Linked DNA regions of Homo sapiens. The protein of the gene in region 4 interacts with the protein of the main gene of each other region in a pairwise test. Each region holds a gene or a part of one and is shown on either strand. Other genes may lie near its edges. The genes, in order: CSPP1, RBM5, CENPC, CIP2A, CEP152, NEK2 and SMC5.

Region 1 (3,500 bases), on a different chromosome or scaffold from region 4:
GTCAACTGAAGGAGGTCTTTGGAGTTTGCTTGCAATTTTGTTCTGAAGAGCAGGAACTATAGGAGAAGGCTGTCTCATGTGCTGAAAAATTTAAAAAATTTAAGAGCATATTTGCTTCATCACACTCACACACATATATACACACACACACACCCCTTATAGTTAAGAAAGTCATCTAAGAAGTTTAGATTGTTATTGCTTTTATTTAATAAAATGCTTTCTACAAAAGTCAGAAATTCAATTACATAAGATCAAACATGTTGGTTATGATAAACATAAATGGATTTAGACATCTTTATTAAAACAGTATGACTGTCAGATTAGGATTTAAAAAATCAACAAACACAAGTAAAGCAACAAAAAAGAAAAAATATAACAAAACTAAAGAATCATCTTTAATAATAAAAAGGTACCATGACAATACAAAAAAATTAAATAACAAAATCCTTCTGGAAAGCAATACAAATCAACCTCGAAAATCTAGATCTAATCACTAACAGCATCATGGATGAGGGACTTTTCAAGATCACGATGGGGTTCTATATTTCAGTTTATAGTGTATTAAACCTTATAGTCCAAAAACTTCATTGTAAATACAACATAGACATTCTAAATCCCTGTAGAGGATGGAGCAAACAAGCCATAGTACACATAACAAAAGACCAAAAAGCTATCAAGGAAGAAAAACACAAAAAAGTCAGAAATGCAATTAATGCAAAGACATTAGTTTTGATAAACATAAATGGATTTAGATATCCCTATTTTAAAAGATTAGGCCAGGTGCAGTGGCTCATGTCTATAATCCCAGCACTTTGGGAGGCCAAGCAGGCAGGTCACCTGAGGACAGGAGTTCAAGACCAGCCTGGCCAACATGGTGAAACCCCGTCTCTAATAAAAATTAGCCAGGTGTGGTAGTTTGCACCTGTAATTCCAGCTACTGGGGAGGCTAGGGCAGGAGAATCACTTGAACCTGGGAGGCGGAAGTTGCAGTGAGCCGAGATTGCACCACTGCACTCCAGCCTGGGCAACAAAGCGAGTCTCTATTTCTAAATAAATAAATAAATAAATAAAAATAAAAAGATTATAACTCAGATTAGGATTTTAAAAATTCAACAAACTAAAGATAGAAGCTAACTAAATAAAAAATATGGTGACACAAAGGTAAAACTGAAGGAATAGACAAAAATATATATATATATCAGACATACATAAATGAAAGAAAATGATAGCAATGTTAATTTCAGAAAGGCAAATGCATTAAATGGGATAAAGCTGATTTAAAACTTTATGGTACTTTACAATTAAATTATAATATCATAAAAGTATATATTCCTTAAAAAATAGCATTTTTAAAAAACATAAGAAATTACAAGAAATATAATTATGGGAAACTAACAATTCTGTTTAATTCTTTTTTTTTTTTTTTTGAGATGGAGTCTCGCTCTGTCACCCAGGCTGGAGTGCCACAGTGCAGTCACGGCTCACTGCAACCTCCGCCTCCCAAGTTCAGGCGATTCTCTTGCCTCAGCCTCCTGAGTAGCTGGGACTACAGGTGCCTGCCACCACGCCCAGCTAATTTTTGTATTTGTTATAGAGACGGGGTTTCACCATGTTGCCCAGGCTGGTCTCGATCTCCTGGCCTCAAGTGATCCGCCTGCCTCGACCTTAAATTCTTAAATGATGAATTTTACAATAAAAAATTATCTGTGAGGCAGGGTGTGGTGGCTCACACCTGCAATCCCACCACTTTGGGAGGCTGAGGCAGGAGGATAACTTGAGCCCAAAAATTTGAGATCAGCCTGGGCAACATAGCAAGACCTGGTCTCTTAAAACAAAAAGAAAGAAAAAGAAAAAGAAAAAGAAAAGAAAAGAAAAGAAAAGAAAAGAAAAGAAAAGAAAAGAAAAGAAAAGAAAAGAAAAGAAAAGAAAAGAAAGAAGGAAGGAAGGAAGGAAGGAAGGAAGGAAAGGAAAGAAAGAAAGAAAGAAAGAAAGAAAGAAAGAAAGAAAGAAAGAAAGAAAGAAAGAAAGAAAGAAAGAAAAAGAAAGAAAGAAAGAAAGAAAGAGAGAGAAGGCCGGGCGTGGTGGCTCACTCCTGTAATCTCAGCACTCTGGGAGGCAGAGGTGGGTGGATCATCTGAGGTCAGGAGTTTGAGACCAGTCTGGCCAACATGGTGAAACCCCGTCTCTGCTAAAAATACAAAAATTAGCTGGGCATGATGGCGTGTGCCTGTAGTCCCAGCTACTTGAGAGGCTGAGGCAGGAGAACTGCTTGAACCCAGGAAGTGGAGGTGCAGTGAGCCAAAATTGTGCCACTGCACTCCAGAGCCTGGGCAACAGAGCGAGATTATGTCTCAAAAAAAAAAAAAAAAAAAAAAAAAAAAAGAATACATATATATATATATATAAACCACTCTCACTTTCTGTATTAGTCTTGTCATGAACCATAACAAACAGTTCATGTTGTACTGTCTGCAGACCATATTCTTGGGTGGCACCGCATACACCATGGGAATGAGACTAAGAATGGCTCAAGTAAGTAAATCCATTACCTTCAATGGACAGAAAATACCAACAAAGCACAGTGACAGTACCTCCTACAGAAAGTTCAGTACATTGTGCCCAGACTAAACAGTAAGACAGAACAGGAACAAAAGCACCTCCTCCTCTTTCTCCCCTTTTCTAACAACTGTACAACTCTCACAGTGAAAGTGAGTTAAACTATGGGTTTGATTGACATTTTTGTCTGAAACTTACCTTTGTTTCTTCCCCAATCAAATTGTCTCTTTCACAGTAGTGCTGAAGTTGCAGGTTATATTTTTCTTCTTCTTCTTTCTTCTTTCTTTCTGCTTCTTTTTGTCTTTCTTCAGCTAACCGAATATGCTCTTCATTTTTTAGCCTTTGCTTTAAAATAAAAAGAGAAATATGCATTCCATATATTCCTTCTATAGTACATTCAAAAATGTGCTGCCTTATTTATCTGATAAAATGAGATAAAGATATAGATGACATGATATGGTGTTCTTTAACATAAGTTGTCTGCTTAAAAATAAAATATTAGGCATCTTTTATAAAGTCTTCAGTCAGCCTACATCTATATTTTTAAAGTCATCACTTATCTCCTTTCTTAAATTACCCTTTCACCTTAATAAAATAATATCCAAAGAATGTATATTGATCTGATATTTTCTAAATGTACTCCAACACTGTTCTCCTTTATAAGTAAGAAATACCTTTTCAAGTCAAAGATTTCACCTTCAGACTAAGTAGTAAAATACAATAGGGAAAAAAGATGTACCTCCTCCTCTTTCTCTCTTTTCTTTTCCTGTTCCTCTTCATACTCCTGCTGAATTCGTGCCCTCTGTTCTGCAAGCCGTCTTTCTTCTTTTTCTTCTGCAATTCTCAGTCTCTCTCGCTCTGCTTCCTCTCTTTGTTTCTTTTCCTCAATCTAAAGAATTAAACTTAGTTATTTATCTTGTAAAACTATTGAAAAGTTAGAATAT
Region 2 (3,500 bases), about 58 Mb from region 4:
AACTACCCATTTGAAACCTCAGAAAAGCTTGTTAAAAAGGACGGCTCATTCAGACTGGCCAATTAGAGTCTTAGTGTACTTGGCACTGCCTGATTTCCAGCAGCATCTCTGGTCCTCACCCTTCCTTCCAGCCACACCCTACTTTCCACATCCTGGACTTTGGACATGTCCATTGCTCTACTGTTGTGCCTTTTTCTGCTTGGAGACGCCTGTATGTAAAGCCTGATCTATCGGGCAGAGCTTCTTCTTCGTTATTCTCTTCCTAAGGCACTGTATTCATGACTTTTGTGTAGCACCTTTACTGTAGCCATCAACACACATGTCTCATCTCTACCACAAGATCTCTGAAAATAGGCCTCTGTGTGAACTAGTCACCTCTGTGTCCCCAACCCTTGAACACAGTATGTTACTCAGCCAGTGCTCTTGGTAAAAATGAATGTGAGGTTTTAAAACAGCAGTGTGCCAGTATTTGTTTTCTTGGAGTAATCAAAGTAATATTCTGACTAATGTTTAGTTGAATTTTGGATAAAGCTCAAAATAAGCATTGGATTCCCGTAGCTTTGGGTTTCTAAACCCTGGAAGTAATGAATGTGACAAATGTGAGACAGGATATTAGAGTTAATAGTGGGTAATCATTCCATTATTTGTGATCCACTGCACATCTGCTACACTGTACATGTTAGATGCTACAGTGACACAGAGCTATGGATCTTGCCTCAAAAAAGCTTATGGATGAGTAGCTAAGGTCAGCAGATAATGGTGACAATGCAGAATAGAAAGGGGTCAGAGGCCGAGTATGGTAACTCATGCCTGTAATCCCAGCACTTCGGGAGGCCAAGGTGAAAAGAGTGCTTGAGCCCAGGAGTTCAAGTCCAACCTGGACAACATGGTAAGACGCATCTCTCCAAAAAAAAAAAAAAATAGCCAGTCTTAATGGCGCTTGTCTGTGGTCCCAGTTACTTGGGAGACTGAGGCAGGAAGATCACTTGAGCCTAGGAGGTCAAGGGTACAGTGAGTTGTGTTCACGCCACTGCACTCCAGCCTGAGCGACAGAGCAAGACCCTGTCTCAAAAAGAGGGTCATGTCGGAAAAGGTCCTATTGAAAGAGGTCTGCCTAAGAGCTCTTGAAGGTTATTTAAAGGAAATTGTTACTAGTGGAGGGTAAGGAATCTTCTATTTTTATTTTTGTGAGACAGGGCCTTACTCTGTCGCATAGGCTGGAGTGCAATCGCGTGATTGTGGCTCACAGCAGCCTCCAACTTTTGGGGCTCAGGCAATCCACCAGCCTCAGCCTCCCAAGTAGCTGGGATTACAGGCATGTGTCACCACTCCGAGCTAATTTTTTTTTTTATCGTTTGTTTTTTTTTTTGTAGAGACAAGGTCTCTCTTTATTGCCTAGACTGGTCTTGAACTCTTGTCTTCAATCAATCCTCCCGCCTGGGTCTCCCAAAGTGCTAGGATTATAGGCGTGGAAAACTAAGGGAATGGTGTGGTAGATGGGCCCTTCAGGCGGAGGGGTATCACATGAGCAGGGAATAGAAAGGTACTGAATCTAGATAAGGCCTAGCAATCGGCTTGATTTGGCTGGAGTCAGAGGCTTTTGGCAGGAGAGGGATGAGTGGCAAAGTGCTATTGTGGCTAGGGGCTAGAGTTCTCAAAAGTCTAGCTAAGCCTAAAAGAATATTACTGAGGGTTGGCCAGGTGCGGTGGCTCACGCCTGTAATCCCAGCACTTTAGGATTCTGAGGCAGGCGGATCACAAGGTCAGGAGATCGAGACCATCCTGGCTAGCACGGTGAAACCCTGTCTCTACTAAAACTACAAAAAAATTAGCCAGCCGTGGTGGCGGGCGCCTGTAGTCCCAGTTACTCAGGAGGCTGAGGCAGGAGAATGGCATGAATCTGAGAGGCGGAGCTTGCAGTGAGCCGAGATCGTGCCATTGCACTCCAGCCTGGGCGACAGAGCAAGACTGTCTCAAAAAAAAAAAAAAAGAAACTGCTACAAGTATTGATTTGAGTGTTAGAAATTTTAATGAGTGGTTGAATTCACAGGTGTGATACCTGAGGATAATGAGGATTGGCTGTGTGTAGTCTTGCAGCCGTTGCACCTAGTTATGGAAAGTAGAGGCCAGTGAGAATCTTGTTTCCACAAATTTCACCCTGTTTTTTTTTTCATGGTAGTATTCATGCCTGATATTATTGATGAAGAGACTAGTATATTTTTGTGGCCTTTTGGAAAAAGGAGTTGGTCTGACATTGGAACAAGCCTACCAGCCAGAATACTTTATTCTAGCCCCAATTAATGTTTGATTTATTAGGAGCCTAAGAATGTGATGAACTTTGAAAATTTTTACCAATAATTTAACTGTAAGAAAAGTATGATCCATTAAAAATGTTTACCTGGCCTGGTGCGGTGGCTCACGCCTGTAATCCCAGCACTTTGGGAGGCCAAGGTGGGTGGATTACCTGAGCCCAAGAGATGGAGACCAGCCTGGGCAACATGGTGAAACCCCTCTCTACTAAAATATAAAATATTAGCTGGGTGTGGCGACATGCGCCTGTAGTCCCAGCTACTCTTGAGGCTGAGGCAGAATTGCTTGAACCCAGGAGGCGGAGGTTGCAGTGAGCCGAGATCATGCCATTGCTCTCCAGCCTGGGCAACAGAGTGAGACTCCATCTCAAAAAAATTTAAAAAAAAGTTTATCATCAGGCTCTTCATTTTTTGGCTGTTGATTTTTTTCCTTATTTTGAGAGTAGGCCTCAAAGAGCAGGAAGGCTATTCTTGATTAGGCGTACTTCAGGGCACAGTGACGCATCCACTGCCTCTTTTAAATCTCATCTGAGTCCTTATTTTTATTTTTTTATTTTTTTAAAGATAGGGTTGCACTTTGTCACCCAGGCTGGAGTGCAGTGGTGCAATAGCCCATTGTAACCTCGAACTCCTGGGCTTAAACAGTCCTCCCACCTCAGCCTCCCAGGTAACTAGGACTACAGGTGTATACCATCATGCTTGGGTAATTTTTATTTTATTTTATTATTTTTTTTTGAGACGGAGTCTCACTCTTGCCCAGGCTGGAGTGCAGTGGCGCGATCTCGGCTCACTGCAACCTCCGCCTCCCGGGGTCAAGCGATTCTCTTGCCTCAGCCTCCCAAGTAGCTAGGACTACAGGCACGTGCCACCACGTCTGGCTGATTTTTTGTATTTTTAGTAGAGACGGGATTTCACTGTGTTAGCCAGGATGGTCTCCATCTCTTGACCTCGTGATCCACCTGCCTTGGCCCCCCAAAGTGCTGGAATTACAGGCGTGAGCCACTATGCGAGGCCTAATTTTTAAAATTTTTGTATACAGATGGGGTCTTACTGTGTTCCCCAGGCTGGTCTCACACTCCTGTGCTCAAGCGCTCATCTTGCCTCATCTTCCCAAAGCGCTAGGATTATAGGCTTGAGCCACTGTACTATCCTGCAGAACAAAGGACAGGGAGATTAGACTAAAGGATGGAG
Region 3 (3,500 bases), on a different chromosome or scaffold from region 4:
GACATTTATACTTAGACGTTTGTCATAGAAAACTGGTGATGAATTAGTCACAGGTGCACAGAAAGTCAAAAATGGAAAAACCAAAATTAAATCAAGAGAAAATTAAGAACTGTACATAAAGAAAATTTAACCATTAGTACTCTACATAGCTGTGACTACTGAAACAGTCATAATAATACCATAAACACTAACTACTAATCCTACTAAAAATTATGATGTACTAAAGAATGGAAGTTTATGTGTTGTGGTCGGAAGTAGAAACTATATGACAAATAAAGTCTAAACTTCCATAGTAGAAAGCCAATAAATAATAGCAAAGACTGGGAAAAAAAATCAAGAAACAGCAATATAAACATTATTTAGAAATATGGAGTCAAAATACCTAGAGTAATAGCTAAGACTAAAAAGTTGGACTTGGAGGAGGAAAAGTGGGGTCTACTATTTTTTTGTGGAATTTATGGAACTACTTTAACTTCCATGTACATAATGCCTTTGAGCTTTAAAAATCAATCTTCCAACAAATTAAGAAGAAAAGTATGTAAAAAGATAGGGAAGAGAATAAAATAGTGAACCAGAATAGACTGCTGATTCTTTGAAAATGTTAATGACAGAAAAATACCTGTAACAACACAGATAATTTAAAAAGGTGAAAACCAGCAATAAAAAGAGAGTAATAACTATGAGGAAGATCATGAAGTTGACTATACACAAATTGAGAACAGAGGAAATGTTTCAAGAAAATTATAAAATGTCAAAACTGGCAAAAGAAATATAAAAAATGCAATAGATCATTGAATAAAGTGGTAATCACACACATCCCCACCAAAACAGCTCCAACCATATGTTTTACAAATGATCCAAATTTGAAGAAACAGATCATTTTTGCTTAATCAAGTTATCCCAGAAAACAGAAGAGAAAAACTAATTTATTTCATGAAGCTCGGTTGTGTTTCAGTTAAAACCTACGGAGTCATATCTTATTTTACTTAAAGACAAACAAATATGAAGTAATAACTAGACCTAGGAATCTCAAGTTCGCAAACAGAAAAGCCTATAAGATAGATAAGTCTTAAGTCTGATTTTATTTTCAAATCAAGTAAACAAATTTCATTCCTTATGTGGAAGGCCTAGGCCAAGCTTGCTGCATGGAAAGGCCCTACCTGAAAAAAAAACCCTAACACCTACAAAGTCTCTGTTGTTTTGAAGCATCCATCTCAAGGATTAGAAAAAATTAATAATATAAAAATAAAAATAAAGAATATATGAAAAATAAAATTAAGAAAAAAATAATGAAACTAAAAACAAGCAAATGAGAGGACCGACAAAGCCAAACTTGGTTTTCTGAAAGACCAAAATTGATAAACCCTGACAAAATTAATCGATGAAAAAGACAAGGCATAGCAGGCACAGTGGCATGTGACTTACGAGCAGTAATCCCAGCTATTCCTTAGCTTAGGGAGGATCACTTAAGCCCAGGAGTTCTAATCCAGCTTGGGCAACATACCAAGATCCCTACCTCTAATTAAAAAAAAAAAAAAAAAAGATAAGGCATAAATAACCAATGTCAGGAATAAAAAAGGGGATATAACTGTAGATCCTACAGACATTAACAAGACTGGAAAAAGACATGACAAAACAACATTATCCAAATAAACTGGAAAATTTAAATAAAATGAACAAATCCCTAAAAAAAGAAAAGTAGAACATTTAAAAAAAATAGAAAATCTAAATTGTCTACTGAAACTATTAAGTAAAATCTAAATCTTTAATGTTCTATATCATCATCTAGGTAGTAGTTGTAAAAATTCAATGAAATATACACGCAATTTGTGTATTTTAATGTATTATGTTTCATAAGAAAACAAAAGTGAGGCCAGGCACAGTGCTCATGCCTGTAATCCCAATGCTTTGGGAAGCTGAGGCAGGAGGATTGCTTGAGCCCAGAAGTTTGAGACAAGCCTAGGCAACACAGTGAGACCCTGCCTCTGTAAAGAAAAATTTTAAAATGGCCGGGTGCGGTGGCTCACACCTGTAATCCCAGCACTGTGGGAGGCCAATGCAGGAGTATCACTTGAGGTCAGGAGTTTAAGACCAGCCTGGCCAACATGGTTAAACCCCATCTCTACTAAAAATACAAATATTAGCCAGGTGTGGAGATGGGCGCCTGTAACCCCAGCTACTTGGGGGACTGAGGCAGGAGAATCATTTGTACCCCGGAGGCAGAGGTTGCAGTGAGCCAAGATAGCACCACTACACTCCAGCATGGGTGACAGAGCAAGACTTTGTCTCAAGACAGATAGATAGATAGAGAAATAATAAATAAATAAATAAGCAGGCCAGCATGGTGATATGCACCTATAGTCCTAGGTAGTCAGCAGGCTGAGACGGAAGGGTTTGAGCCCAGGAAAAGTTCAAGGCTTCAGAGAGCTGTGATCATGTCATGGCACTCCATCCTGGGCTAAAGAGTGAAACCCTGTCTCAGAAAATAAATAAATAAATAAATAAATTAGTATTTTAAAATTCTCGCAAAGAGAAAACTCCTATGAATTCCATCAAATATTTGAGAAAGAAACAATAGTGGTTCATAAAAACACTTCAGGAGAAAAGAGACAGAGAAAATACTGAACAACTCATTTTACAAGACCAGTACAAACACAGAGTAGAACCTTTATTTTGAACATTTCTTATTTATTATACATTTAAAGTTATGAATTCCCTCTAACACTATTTTAGCTAAATCTCACAAGTTCTGATAAGTCATATTATTATCTTCATTCAGAATATTTTATATTCCCAACATGCTTTCTTCTTTGGCCTAAAGTCATTTAGAAGTCATTGCAGTGGACCTTGGCTTTAGAGCACAATGTCTTAAAAGGGACCAGATTTACCCTCCTGCCTGAATCAATTTTAAAAAAAGAAAAAACATACAAGATTCTCAAGAAATACGACATTGAAAAACCAAAGAGAATGATTCTTGAGATGGGAAACAAATGAGGTGAACCCTCTGATCACCCATTTCCAGATGTGACACACAGGGGAAATCCTCAGTTGAGGAGCCAAAGCTGAGGATTCAGGAAGACCAAAGTGGTTAGAATTTGCAGGATAAAGTACTGGACAGGAGACGGTTACATAGAGAAAACTGCAGAATGTGCAGATCTCTCTCAAGCATTCAATCAAATATTGATCAGAGAATGCGTTGTAAGAAAACCAGAGAAAGAACCACCCGAAGCCTTGAGGGGGAATATCCTCCCAGTTACAAAGGACCTAGAATAATCTACCAGCCAGAGTGGAAAACCTCCATAAGTAACGGGACACAGTAGAGAAGAATTTTGCCTCAGAAGGGAAGAAAATTAGCCACAGACTATATTTTGCTAGTCTTTATTGTTTCCACAGCTTCTCATATATCTAAAATTTGTTTCCATTTTTTAAAATAGCTGCTTTAGCAGGAGTGTTAGCCTTCTGTGACTTACTGCATTCTACCTAGAAGAGGAACCTCTAGC
Region 4 (3,500 bases):
AAATGACGCTGGGTCAATTGAATATACATATGGGGAAAAACTGAAATTTGACCCCCTTCCTCATACCAAATGCAAAAATCAGTATAAGACAGGTTGTAGATTTAAATGTGAAGAGTAAAAATAAGGAACGTTTTAGAAAAAACACCTAAAGAGTATCTTCATGGCCTTGGGGTAGACAATGATTTTCTTAAACAGGAAACAAAAGCACTAACTATACAGTAAGAAAGTCGATAAGTTGGGCTACATTAAAATTAAGTTTCTATTTATGAAAAGACCACTAATAAAAGAATGAAAAGTCAAAGAATGGGAATAGATATTTACAATGCATATATCTAACAAAGGACTCTTATCCAAAATATATTATTTTTCTACATTGTATGTATATATCCGAAAAAACACAGAGCCGAACAGATACTTGAGCAAAAAAGTTGAATTGGTCAATAAACATGAAGTGATTTACCACTTTATCAATCTTAAGGGAAATGCAGATTTAAATGGTAGTATCATACCATCTGACACCCACCAGTTGATTAAAATGAAAAATAAGGAAAATAGCAAACATACTTTAACTCTCATTTAGTACTTACAGAACAACCAATTATGAAAACTGGTATCTATTAATACTGGGCATATGTATAAACTACGACCCAGAAATCTCACTTATAGGTATTTATCCCAAAGAATTGTTTACATGTGTACAAAATGTAGTACTGCTCCTAATAGCTAACAATGATAACCCAAATGCCATTAACAGTGGAATATGTTCATTTTGGGAAAGTCATCTAGCTCTGCACTAGTAATTAGTTTTTTTACTTTTATATGTGTACATTAAAAGAAAACTAATGTACATGGAAAGCTATCTGCTTCTATGTTTATAACGGACATATGGTAAGATACACAAACAATTGGTAACATTGCTTGCCTACAGGGTTTGTCTTTTGAACCATGTGAATGTATTACCTATTCAAAAATAAATATAGTCATGCATTACATAATGACATTTTAGTCAATGACAGACACAGACTTCTTATTGCCTATGACATTATGGCCATTCTAACATGGTGGTGCAATGCATCACATGTGTTTGTGGTGATGCTGGTGTAAACAAACCTACTGAGCTGCCAGCTGTATAAAACTATAACACATATTAAGATTGTATACAGTACATAGTATTTTGATAAACGTGTTACCACTTATTCTTTGTTATTTTAGAGTGTACTTCTACTTATAAAAAAGTTAACTGTAAAACAGCCAGGCAGGTCTTTCAGGAGGTATTCCAGAAGAAGGTATTGTTGTTATTAGAGATGACAGCTCCCTGTGTGTTACTGCCCCTGAAGACCTTCCAGTGGGACAACATGTGGAGGTGGAAGTGGTGTTGATTACCCTGGCCCTGTGTAGACCTGGGCTAATGTCTGTGTTTGTGTCTTTGTTTTTAACAAAAAAAGTTTAAAAAGAAAAAGCCTACATTTTAAAAATAGAAAAAACTGATAGACTACAGATGTAAATAAAGTATTTTTGTATAGCTGTACAGTGTGTTTCTCTTACTACAAAAGAGTCAAAAACTTTAAAAATGGATAGGTTTATAAAGTTAAAAAGTTCTGCTAAGCTAAGGTTAATTTATTAGAGAAATTTTAAAAAATAGTGTAGCTTAAGCATACAGTCTTTATGAAATATACAGCAATATACAGTAATGTCCTAGGCCTTTACATTCACTCACTACTCAGTCATTAACTCACCCAGAGCAACTTCCAGTCCTGCATGTTTTGTTTATGGTAAGTGTCCTATACAGGTGTACCGTTTTTGATCTTTTATACTGTATTTTTCTATGTTTAGATACACAAGTACTTACAATTGTGTTATAGTTGCCTACAGTATTTAGTACAGTAATATTCTGTACAGTTTTGTAGCCCACGGGCAATAAAGGGACGTAGTAGGCTCTACCATCTAGGTTTGTGTAAGTACACTCTTACGATGTTCACACAACGGAATTAATGATGCATTAAGCAACATATGCATCACTAAGTGACACATGACTGTACTACAGTTTATTAAAGATTATCATTTGTTATAGTAAATGCTAATGGACTGGATTCTTTTAAATTCAGATACTATCAAGTTGATTAAAACACAAATCCCAATTATATATCATTTGTAAGAAACAGACTTTTAAAAAGTTGGAAATAGAGAGACAAGGAGATCTTAAGAAATTTTTTTTTTTTTAGTGATAAGTTGGTAGTATGTGAAATGAGGTGGAATTTATCTTAACATCTAATAAACTGGTTGATGGGGGATGTTATGGTATAAGGCCCAGTTTATAAAGTAGAGGAAAAATGGGGTACAGTAGGAGAGCTAAGGGTCATAATGCCAACCGTATGCAAACAGTGTGGAAATAACCATCCTGAAGGTTTTATATTCTATGCTACAGTATCCTTTATAGCGGTTATTGAATTTTAGGATTATAACAAGTATTACTAATTCTAATTTTATTTTTTAGGGTTTTTTTGGTCATTTATAAACAAAACAGGTTTCTGTTTAAAAATAATTTAAGTACTATGGAAGGAGTGGGAGGAGTTTAACGTTGGCTGAAGTTGACCTTCCCTCTGAGGTTCTCACAGTCCTGCTTATCAGGAGTAACCACCATTAATAAGTTTATTTTATAATCTTCTAGAACCTATTCACACATTTGAAAAATAATATTGAAAGAAAAAACTTAAGTTTTGTTTTAGAATATTTTCTTTAAAATATGTAGCATTTTCAGCTTCATCATACACTTGCTTTGTATATTAAAGTTCTGTGAAATTGATGTTTAATGAACACTTTATATTGCACAGGTTTTAGAATTACTTCTTGCCTTCTGTTCAGTGACTCAGCTGCGCCATATGCTCACTCAGATGATGTTTGAACAGTCTCCACCTGGCAGCGCCACTCTGGGAAGCCATACTAAATGTTTAGAACCTACTGTGGCTCTACTGCGCTGGTTAAGCCAACCTTTGGACGGATCAGAAAACTGTTCTGTTTTAGCATTGGAGTTGTTCAAGGAAATATTTGAGGTAATAGGATGACTGACAGATTGACTTTTCTACTTTTGTGACTCTCAGTTAACAATTTGTCTTCAAAAACATTCTTTGTAAACTTACAGTTCATACACTTGAGGAAAACATCTCAATTACTAACAGTCATACTAGACTCGCTAGGTTTTTTTCTGCCAGTCATATATATTAGTGTTTTCCTTTTTTTTCACTGAGTAGTGTGTATGTATATATATATATAGTGCTCATTTCAGTGTAATAAGTAAAGATATTAAAAAGATTTATATAATTTGTTGCCTGACTACTGGGGATAGTTACATTGTCTCTCCATTGCAATAGATGCCATCTACCAAGTTTAGTAGGCCATTGAATGGACAATAGAGGCATATTGGATTCAGTCAGTGAAATGGAGTAGAGCATGCCAGATAATGTGCTAGGCACTTAAGATACAGACAAAACTCCACATTCTGG
Region 5 (3,500 bases), on a different chromosome or scaffold from region 4:
GATTTCAGGGAATAAAAACATGACTTCTCCATTAAAACTCTCATGATTCTCCTTGTAACAAGAATCAGTTGTGAATGAAGGGAAAACCATAAATAGAAGAAGAGGGCCTAAATTAACCCTCTTATCTAAATACAAAATGAAATCTAGGAAGAGGGGACATTAAGTCAGACGATTATTACCCATTTGTTCACATCTATGATCTCCTTTTATCCTCAAAGCAACCCTTCAGATGGGTGATTATGGATGCTACAAAGACTGGTGGGAACAAAATCCAATTACCAGCTTCTGCTTCTGTTGCTTGTAAGGCCAAGGGCTGAGCATGGTGTCCAGCAGCAGGTCCAGGGTCTCCTTGGCCAGTGCCCTGGCTGGCAGAATCCTTAGAGAGCTCGGCCATATTTCTCTGAAATAAAGTATCTTCAAAGTTAATGCTTAGTAAAAATCTTTATACAATTTTATATTTAAAATGCTAATATTAAAAATACAAAGAGAAAACACTACCTGAAAAAAATCTTGCCTGAACTATCTATCGCCAATATTTTTCTTAGGGTGTTATATAAGTACTGTCACTGTACTAGGAACTAGCTTCCTATGAAACTTTCCAAATAAGAACACTGTCTGACAGGCGACTGGTGGGCAGCTATGAGACAGACAGAAGATATGGTTTGCACATTATATATGTGAATTTGAGATTTTTCAATGGTTTACGTGATTAAACCACATGAAAGACAATATAAAATCAGAATTGTTCTTGAAAATCTAGAACATTTTTACTACAGCAAGGAACAAGTTAATTAGCAAGTATAATGCTAACCCTCTGCCTCCTATGAATTGAAAATAACAGTTAAAAATCATTTTAAATTTATATAGTACTTCATATGCTTCTAAATACTTTAACATACACAGTAATTTTGTAAGGAAGGCCAGCTGAATGCCAAAGTTAAGGACAGAAACTGAGGCTTAGCTAAATTAAACATCTTGCACAAGACCATTTCTTCACTAATATTTATTGAACGTTTTTATGTTCCAGTCCTTGTCACAGCAATACAGCTACTAAATCAATGGATTTTTCATTTTTGGTTTTTGTTTTGAGATGGAGTCCTCCTCTATCGGCCAGGCTGAAGGGCATTGGCGCGATCTCAGCTCACTGCAACCTCCACCTCCCAGTTCAAGCGATTCTCCTGCCTCAACCCTCGTGATCCGCCTGCTTTGGCCTCCCAAAGTACTGGGATTACAGGTGTGAGCCACCACGCTCAGCCAAATCAATGGATTTTTATGGTAATGTTTTCAGATTTAAGATGACTACTAAATCGGAAAGGAACAGAATAGGTGGTATGGAGAAAGTAGTCTTACTGATTATTTAAAACATACTATATATGCCTGATTCTAGAAGCCTTGATTTTGATTATGAGAAACCACTTAATTGACTGTCAGAAAACCTACTTACAATGTCCAACAGAAGCAGAGGTTAGCAATTATAGAGAAGAGGCAATCAAGAAGCTATGGGTTTGAGGTCAAAAGGAGTAGGAAAAGCTGAACCAAAATGCAGTCAGTGCTTCCAGTTTTTACTCAAAACTGGGGAAGAAAAGTCAAGATAACAGAAAAGGGAGAAAAGCAACAACCTTTTTGTCTCAGTTTTAACTTGACTTTGATGGTAAAAGAGACAACATACATCCTTAAGTTTGCTTGAAAATTTTGTTCCATTTGATATTTGTTTTATCTGTTATGAACTACTGTATTAATATATTTTGATATGGCATTCATTTTCTTGAAAGCTATATTTTTCATTCATTGCATCCTCTCCATTTAAAAAAACTTTTGATTGTCTCAGTTATTTTAATGAGGACTTGTTTTTATATATTAATAAACCATCTTTTGTTTTAATTTCCATGAACAATTTTTAAAACTAGAGAGTTAATAAATTATAAATTATAGTTCCTCACATTTACAGCACCTATGTAACAAATTTAAAATCACTGCTCTATAATCATAGCTTTACCTCAAGGTCCTGAGTGAAGATAGCTCGAAAATGGCAGAAGGTCAAGTATTACTTCTATGACAAATTCCAGATTAGGCATTTCAAAGCCATCCTTTTCTCAGGAATGGAATCTGACCCACCCAACAAAAGCCGTAAACATCTAAATTCTTAGCCAGATTATGTGATTCTGTCTCCATAGACTTATGAGCCTCATTAAGTCACACAGATGATCTTATACTGCTTGCACAATTATAAGCCCTGTAAAAAGACTCCAGGGTTGATTTTATATGTATATATTAATGGTAGGAGAAAGGTGTCATAGTTTCTTGATTTTTATAACAGATTTTATAACTGTTATAAAAATCGAAACATGCTTACAAACGAAAGCATGTAAACATGATTTTCCCATCATTTCTCATCTCCAAATCTGCTATAATTTTTTAATTATATGTTTTCTCCAAGTTATTTTAATTATTTTCTCCAAAAAATCTCAATTAAGTGTGAAGCAGTATTCATGGGAAGTGATCTTGCCCAGTAAATTTTACATTGAAGGCAACTACTCGGTAGCAACATCTTTGTGAGGTCAAGGATAAAAATATCAACTGGGGTGAAGTAGGATGGAGTGAGCTGATCTTTCAGGTCCCTTCTGGCTCTAAAATTCTATACTGTTTCAAATGCAGGACCCAGAAAGGCTAAGCTGTGCCATGCATATCCTACCCAAACCCAAGGAATTAGGCCGGGGATTTGTATTTTATTTTTCCAGTGAGCAACTATGTGATTGCCCAATATAATAATCTAGTTATCATCGAATATGGAACTGAAACTCAAGGTTATTTTTTCTAGTTTATAACTCTCCCAAGTAGGTATTAATACCAAATGCTCAATCCTGGCCTTGAAACTCCTTAATCACAATATTTTGATGGAACTTCACTCTTAAGTCTCAACTCTATTAGACAAACCTTATAATACTGGCTTTTTTTTTTTTCCTGCCTCTAATCCCAAATGTTGAAATTGGCTAATCACCATGCTCAGAATATCATTCTGGATCTTTCATGCATACCTAATTGCTTTGATCATAAGGTAGCAAGAATTTGGTTTTACTGAAACTTTCATACAAATTAAAAGCTGGTCTCAGAGAGTACTTATATAACTAAAAGAATATAATTAATTCTATATGCACATATATAGTACATCCAGAAACTGGGCTTCAGAGTTTTATGCGAGTGAGTCGTATTTATTTGCTTGTTTCTATATCAATACCTTTGTACTTGGTTGGCATTTTTTTGCCTAAATGAGACATAAATTTATTGAGGGCAATAAATAGGCTTCCAAACTCTTTACAAGCTTTTAAGAAACTCTTATTATGCATATTTCATGAAGTGGTCAGGCCCAGAAAACAGAATTTTGAAAAAAAAATTTTCAGTTTCTGAAATCTCAGGCCCTTAGAAAGAACAGCATATATTCTTTATTTTATTTTAAGTTCTGGGATACATGTGCTGAACGTGAAGGTTTACTACATAGGTAT
Region 6 (3,500 bases), on a different chromosome or scaffold from region 4:
TTTTTTAATATTTTACTTTTTATTTTAGACTTTGCATTTAAGAGGCTCTGTAAATGATTCTTGTGTATGCAGAATCAGAGCTCAGGAAGTTTGCTCACTTCAGATAGCATGTTTTTACAATGTTAACTTTTTGTACATTTTATTTTTTTGTTGCCTATCCCTGAAATATCTTGCTGAGTCCACTCACCAATTACCTCTATTGCTGGATATTTTGTTTCCAACATGTTTCACCATTCTTAGAAGTACTGCTCTGCATATCTTTGTATGAATTATTCTTTCTTCCTTTTTGGTTATTTCCTTGGAGTGTAGCTCATAAAATGAAATTGCTGGGGTAAATGTTTATGGCTGTTATTAGATATTGTCTGATGGCTTTTAAAAAGTTTAAGTCAATTGTGATAGCACTAATGTGTTAGTATATAACATCTGAACAGATAAAGATGAAGAAATATTTGTTAGTATTTTAGTAGTTCACCTTTCTAGGATTTTCCAAATATTTATAAATTATGTTAACAGATCTTACTATAGTATAAAACTTTGTAAATTAATGATTTTGGTTTTGACTAAAAATAGCCAGAACAGTACCATTTTCTCACTGTATCAAATTCCAAATAGAATGTTTTTAACATAAAGGACAATTATCCAGAAGTGGTTCTTGGGAAATTTGAAACCTATTCTTTTGTTCCTTTTCCCTCCTGCCCTTGTAATTAGAGTGGTTCAGCTTTCCTAAGGCACTGATTGTCAAAAAGTGGCATCAGACTCACCAGTTGGACTTTAAAACACTAACCAGCCACTAGAGATTGCTTCTATTCCCTCTGTTGAGAATAGGAGCTCTGGTAGGCTGTTGTTACTGTAGATGTGGAAGAAAGGCAAACAATAAAATAGGTAAGGATAATATTAGTTACTACTGTGATTTATGGAGTGGACTAAGACAAAATATAAATGGATAATTCAATTAGCTATTTATGTCTATATCCATTTAAATGTGGACTAGATACATATTTTGACTATTCTTAAATTTCCTCTAGTTCTTTTAAAATGGTGTTTCTTAATTTGCCTTGAGAGTAGAAGTCTCTCATATTCACCTCTGTATTGTCAGTGCCTAGTCTATACTAAGCACTTTCATTTGTGAATGGAAAATGAGTGAATGAATTATGTATGATGGAGTGTATTGGAACAAGATCATTGCCTTTTTTCCATTATAAATTTCAAGATAAAGTATAAGCTAAAAACTTTGAGGTTCTGTTTTTATCTCAGGAGTAATTTAATGTGTTTTTTAAGTTTCAAAACAAAATAAACTCTTAACACCTTCCACTTTCTTACCCTTTTTCCCTGTATAGGAACAAATGAATCGCATGTCCTACAATGAGAAATCAGATATCTGGTCATTGGGCTGCTTGCTGTATGAGTTATGTGCATTAATGTAAGTATGATGAAGACAGATTCCTAGTCTAAGGTTTGTACTGTTTGTCACATTTCACTGGGTTCAGTTTTTTGAGCCTCTGTGCTAACGAAAGTATATTCAAGTCTGAAAGAATTGTACCCTGGGTAAAATTAAGGTAGATAGATGAACAGGCTAAAAGAAACTATTCACAAATTAAAACTATAAGCCATGAGGCTGGGTCTTGACTGTTCAAGGGTCTTGGCTGGTTAGGTGCTTTCTTATTAGATTGACACTTAGCTCAAGGGAGAGCACATAGGTCAGGCAGGTAAGGTAAAGCTACTGTAAGGATGTGGAAGAAATGAAACAAGACTCGGGTAGAGGTCTGGGGATCTGTAGAGCAGGGAAGAGCTCCAATTCTTTTCCTTTGTTCTTCTTTTCATTTTCTTTCCCTTTGAAACTATTCTGTAGAGCAGTGATTCTCAACTAGGGATAAGGGAAGCAAATTTGCCTCTTATGGGGCATTTGATGATGTTTGGATAAATTTTTAGTTATCACAGCTGGGGAGTGCTTCTGGCATCTAGAGGGTAGAGGGCAGGGAGGCTACAAAATACCTATAATGCACAGGACAGCCCCCCACAACAAAGAATTATATGACCTCAAATGTCAATAGTGCCAAGGTTGGGAAACTTACTTATAAGAAGAAAATCCCAGAAGTAGAAACTTAAATACAAACTGGAGCTTAAGCTGTGCTTTTGATTTAGTTCCTATTGTATATTTTCATTTTTACAATTTGAAAATGTCTTCGTCGTCTTCTTCTTCTTTTTTAACCCTAGGCCTCCATTTACAGCTTTTAGCCAGAAAGAACTCGCTGGGAAAATCAGAGAAGGCAAATTCAGGCGAATTCCATACCGTTACTCTGATGAATTGAATGAAATTATTACGAGGATGTTAAACTTAAAGGTAAAGATGATAAGATGATATATTGTCTGTTTCTAGCTGTCAGTTAAGTGTCAGAGCATACATTCTCTCTTGTAGATCAATGGAGACTGAAGAAACGTTAAATATACTTTCTTAGCTAAATTTACTGTGTTAACACAAGTGAAAACATATGTAAATTTGGCAAATTGCACATCCTTGCTGGCCCACCTTCTGCGCTTTCTTTATTTCTCCTCCCACTCTGTCATGCTAACAGATGGTCGGTAGCAAGGAAAGATTGCAAAAAGAATTCAAATTCTCGTTCCCCTTGTCCTTGCCTACCTCACAGTGGCAGGTAGTGAGGGAAGGGGCCAGAAATAAGAGTTTATTACTCTGCCTCTAGCTCTAATTGAGAGATTAAAGACCAGAAGAAGGGGAGGGGTGATGGAGGGCGGACGGAGGACAGCTAAAAACAGAGGGAAAATCAATAAAGAGATTATGTGGAAAAACTCTGGCTATAGAATGGGGAAGGAGATGTTCTGGGGACCAGGCTGACATAAGAGAAGAAGGAAAATGCCGTAGGATCACAGAGAAGGATACAGATGAAGTGACAGGATTGAGAGTCAGTGAGAGAGTATCTTGCTAAATGTAGTTTAGAAATGCAAGGGCAGTACTTCCCCTAAAACAGACCCTAGCAATGCTACCAAGCCCCAGCACAAGATGTGCCAATCTTCAGGGATTGAACCTTCTTAGAAAGGTGAAAAGGGGAAAAGGGAAAAAAGGTAAGTTAACATCTGCATTACCTTGTGGACCCAGAACCTCATGAGTTAAAACCACCAGTGAACTTATTTTTCCAAGTTTTTAAGACCTAGCCATAAAGGAGTCCTTTCTTTTGTCTTGGAAACACATTTTTGTCCTTTTATTTTAACTGCTGTCTTAGGAGGACTATTCTGTTATGCAATCTGACTATAATACTGAGTATTTTTTCCCCAGGATTACCATCGACCTTCTGTTGAAGAAATTCTTGAGAACCCTTTAATAGCAGATTTGGTTGCAGACGAGCAAAGAAGAAATCTTGAGAGAAGAGGGCGACAATTAGGAGAGCCAGAAAAATCGCAGGATTCCAGCCCTGTATTGAGTGAGCTGAAACTGAAGGAAATTCAGTTACAGGAGCGAGAGCGAGCTCTCAAAGCAAGAGAAGAAA
Region 7 (3,500 bases), on a different chromosome or scaffold from region 4:
TATAAATGTTGCCAAAACTGAGGATGCTCTAAGGTTTACTATTCTTATTGATGGCACTTCTATGTCAGGTTCAGATTTACCTTAAAAATGAGATACATAACTTACTAATTAGGCCGGGTGTGGTGGCTCATGCCTGTAATCCCAGCAATTTGGGAGGCCGAGGGGGGTGGATCACTTCAGGTCAGGAGTTTGAGACCAGCCTGGCCAACATGGGGAAATCCCATCTCTACTAAAAATACAAAAATTAGCCGGGCATGGTGGCAGGCATCTGTAATCCCAGCTACTTGGGAGTCTGAAGCCGAAGAATAGCTTGAACTCAGGAGGTGGAGGTTGCAGTGAGCCAAGATTGCGCCACTGCGCTCCAGCCTGGGTGAGAGTGAGACTTTGTCTCAAAAAACCAAAACGAAAAACATGAAACTTACTAATTAAAGGTTATCTATTAATTGAATAGAGCTTTAAGGTCTAAGATAGTACTGAGCAAGAGAAAGATATAATACAACCCACATATGTAATTTTCAATTTTCTAGTAGTTACTTTTTTTTTGAGACAGAGTCTCTGTCCCACTCTGTTGCCCGGGCTGGTCTCAAACTCCTGAATTCAAGTGATCCTCCTGCCTTGGCCTCCCAAAGTGGGATTAGGCATAAGCCACAGCACCTGGCCTTTGCCTGTCTTAAAGAAAAATTAATTTTAGCCCAAATTGCAATGCATAAACTTACAGCACAAGAAATTAGTAGCAAATTTCCCACTATTTCCATTCTTATAAATTCTTAAATTCTTTTTTTTTTTTGAGACAAGGTCTGGTTTTGTTGCCCAGGCTGGAGTGCAGTGGCACCATTTTGGCTCACTGGAACCTCCACCTTCCAGGCTCAAGTCATCCTTGCACCTCAGCCTCCAGAGTAGCTGGGACCACAGGTACATACCACCGCACCCAGCTAATTTTTGTATTTTTACAGAGATGCGATTTTGCCATGTTGCCCAGGCTGGTCTCAAACCCGTGAGCTCAAGCTATCTGCCTGCCTCAGCCTCACAAAGTGCTGAGATTACAGGCGTGAGCCACCACACCTGACCATGAATTCTTAAATTCTTTATTAAAAAAAAAAAGACACTGATATACACTATATTTCAAACTAATCTGTTTGAGTCTTCTAACTCCAGCTGTGGTAGCTTTATAACGTATTTATTCAATACAACTGAATAACCATTACTCAGATGTATAAAAAGAGTTACAAGGTATTAGTCACTAATTCCAAACATAACCCCCCCCAAAAAAAGTGACCCTAATGGAATCCCACAGGTGGTTTTCTCCTTTCTTTCAACATTTTGGTAAACAAAACTTTTCACAGATATAACTCAAAAGTAAATAAATAATTTATATGTACTTTAAGCATATAATTAAAATTATTTGCCAGAAATATTATTTATTTCAAATGCAATTTTACCTCATTTTCTGTATGGAGATCAACTTCACCAGCACACTGCATGGAACTAAAAAAATTGCTGAATTTTTCATTAATTTTTTCTACCAGCTCTTTTAAAGGATTAAGCCACCTTTCTTTTACCTACAAATAAAGGCAATATAAAAACACAATTTAAAAGCAGTATTACTATATTCTGACACACAATTTTATGTAAATTTTATATCAGTATCAGTCTGGGCATAACACACTTCTCTTAGAAGCATGTCATCTCATTTTCCATTATTCTACATTCCCATTTCATTAATAATCACATGATAAAAAGATTAAAAACTAAAAAATTACCTGTGAAATGTTTTCCCTGTATTGATCTAGTTCAACTTTCTTTCCCTTTAGTTCCTCAGTTAACTGTTCTATTTCTTCTTCTCTTTTTGTATATTCCTGAACAATCTGGCAGGGGAAAAAAAAACTTCTTTAAGATAAATCTACCAAAGGATAAAACTATATACAATTTTGCATTGATTAAAACATTAAATGAAAATGCCAATTGTGCTGCATTGTTTGTATGCAAATAATATATGCTCTTATTACATACTGAAAGTGACATTTTTTATCCTTGAAAAAATAGACATTGCAGTATTTCAGGTTAGCCCAACTATTCTTTTTATAAAGAAAAGGCACAGAACATTGTGTTCCTTAGGAAGAATCTATTTAAAATTCTAATAGATTCAGAATCTGGCATTTAAAGTACATTGTTCCTGCTGTCTAGCTTATTATTACCAAGAGCTCTAGTACAGAGTGGGAGGCAAGTACTGGAGGGAACTCTGTGTGTGTATGTGTGTGTATGGGGAGGGTGGTGGTGGTGGTTGGATGCAGAATGGGAATAGAGAAACAGGCATACTGTAGGATTCAGTCCCGTGAAGCAGGAAGCTCTTGATCTTTCTTCAGTTAATAAAGCATCAATTTCATCCAATGTGTTTGGAAGGTCTTGGAAAACCTAAGAAAAAAATTGCCCGTCATTATAGATACAATGAAAACAGTTCCATTCAAATAGTTAAAAGAAAAATAATCTGCTGAATAAGTTATCTATCTGTTCAACAGCATGCTGGCACACAAGAATACAAAGGAATAATAAACAGGGTCATTTGCCTTCAAAAGCTTGTACTTTAAAGAAAACAAAATGTATGTACTGGATAACACTTTAAGGCAATGTATTGATGTTGAGTATTAAAACAAGCAGTACATATCATATAGGCTAGGAATTTAGAGAAAAGAAGTATCAGTTCATGCTACAGGAGAGTTAAGAGAATTCAAAGGCCTAGAATTCATCTCCGGGCCTTAAAGCAAATGGCTAGGGAGGAGCAAGGCAGAGGGAAAACAGGAGCTTGGGAAAAAAGAATGAGTACTGCATACCATGGGGAGTGAGGAGTTGTGTCCATTTGGAATGGTGGGTACTTGCTGAATTGGTAGAATGGGTCCAGAATATGTGGGGCATTGAAAGAGAGCAAGAAGTTAGAACTTTATACTGCACTTATGAAGAACTAAAAAAGCATCCTGAGAATCTAATTACTTTGACAGTTGAATTTCACCACAGTACTATCTTCTGAGTCCATGCCATGGGGACAAATTAGAACATATACTTTTTTTTTTGAGGGGAGGCAATCAGTACATTGTTTGGCCTAGCACAACCTGCAAAGGCTATATACTACATGGTACAAAATGAATCCTGAAACCCTGAAAAAGATCTTGACATATTAATCTAATATCTTAAACTTATTATTTTAACCTCTTAGAAAGCAGTTCAACCTCTATAGACCTTCAAATATTCCTCTGTTGAATCTCTGACTTACTGAGATGTAAGCTCATGTGTCCAACATTTATTTACTCGATATCCTCACTTGACTCTAATAGGCATCTTAAATTTAAGATGGTGAAACAGAATCTGGATTTCACCCACCTTCCCTATCACTTTAAGCAACCCTGTTTCTCCTTCAATCTTCTCCATTCCAGTAAATGGCATCGTAATTTGTTCAGGTGAAAAATTTAGGGGTTCTCTCTCTCATCCTTCATGTCAAATCCATCAGC

Evidence for each region.
Region 1: the proteins of CIP2A (region 4) and CSPP1 interact in a two-hybrid assay, tested with the Homo sapiens proteins (one large-scale study listed by BioGRID).
Region 2: the proteins of CIP2A (region 4) and RBM5 interact in a two-hybrid assay, tested with the Homo sapiens proteins (one large-scale study listed by BioGRID).
Region 3: the proteins of CIP2A (region 4) and CENPC interact in a two-hybrid assay, tested with the Homo sapiens proteins (one large-scale study listed by BioGRID).
Region 5: the proteins of CIP2A (region 4) and CEP152 interact in a two-hybrid assay, tested with the Homo sapiens proteins (one large-scale study listed by BioGRID).
Region 6: the proteins of CIP2A (region 4) and NEK2 interact in a two-hybrid assay, tested with the Homo sapiens proteins (one large-scale study listed by BioGRID).
Region 7: the proteins of CIP2A (region 4) and SMC5 interact in a two-hybrid assay, tested with the Homo sapiens proteins (one large-scale study listed by BioGRID).

Annotation. Positions count from the first base shown.
Region 1 is NC_000008.11:67,158,392-67,161,891, reverse strand, and holds part of CSPP1 (centrosome and spindle pole-associated protein 1), read right to left. Parts: intron 3,446-3,500; coding exon 3,296-3,445; intron 2,902-3,295; coding exon 2,755-2,901; intron 82-2,754; coding exon 1-81. UniProt on the Homo sapiens protein: May play a role in cell-cycle-dependent microtubule organization.
Region 2 is NC_000003.12:50,095,419-50,098,918, forward strand, and holds part of RBM5 (RNA-binding protein 5), read left to right. Parts: intron 1-3,500. UniProt on the Homo sapiens protein: Component of the spliceosome A complex. Binds to ssRNA containing the consensus sequence 5'-AGGUAA-3'. Regulates alternative splicing of a number of mRNAs.
Region 3 is NC_000004.12:67,535,504-67,539,003, forward strand, and holds part of CENPC (centromere protein C), read right to left. Parts: intron 1-3,500. UniProt on the Homo sapiens protein: Component of the CENPA-NAC (nucleosome-associated) complex, a complex that plays a central role in assembly of kinetochore proteins, mitotic progression and chromosome segregation.
Region 4 is NC_000003.12:108,568,939-108,572,438, reverse strand, and holds part of CIP2A (protein CIP2A), read left to right. Parts: intron 1-2,831; coding exon 2,832-3,050; intron 3,051-3,500.
Region 5 is NC_000015.10:48,752,070-48,755,569, forward strand, and holds part of CEP152 (centrosomal protein of 152 kDa), read right to left. Parts: intron 401-3,500; coding exon 280-400; intron 1-279. UniProt on the Homo sapiens protein: Necessary for centrosome duplication; the function also seems to involve CEP63, CDK5RAP2 and WDR62 through a stepwise assembled complex at the centrosome that recruits CDK2 required for centriole duplication.
Region 6 is NC_000001.11:211,669,122-211,672,621, reverse strand, and holds part of NEK2 (serine/threonine-protein kinase Nek2), read left to right. Parts: intron 1-1,337; coding exon 1,338-1,420; intron 1,421-2,214; coding exon 2,215-2,341; intron 2,342-3,289; coding exon 3,290-3,500. UniProt on the Homo sapiens protein: Protein kinase which is involved in the control of centrosome separation and bipolar spindle formation in mitotic cells and chromatin condensation in meiotic cells.
Region 7 is NC_000009.12:70,345,978-70,349,477, reverse strand, and holds part of SMC5 (structural maintenance of chromosomes protein 5), read right to left. Parts: intron 2,900-3,500; coding exon of another isoform or gene 2,874-2,899; coding exon 2,829-2,873; intron 2,413-2,828; coding exon 2,317-2,412; intron 1,866-2,316; coding exon 1,761-1,865; exon of another isoform or gene 1,757-1,760; intron 1,560-1,756; coding exon 1,440-1,559; intron 1-1,439. UniProt on the Homo sapiens protein: Core component of the SMC5-SMC6 complex, a complex involved in repair of DNA double-strand breaks by homologous recombination.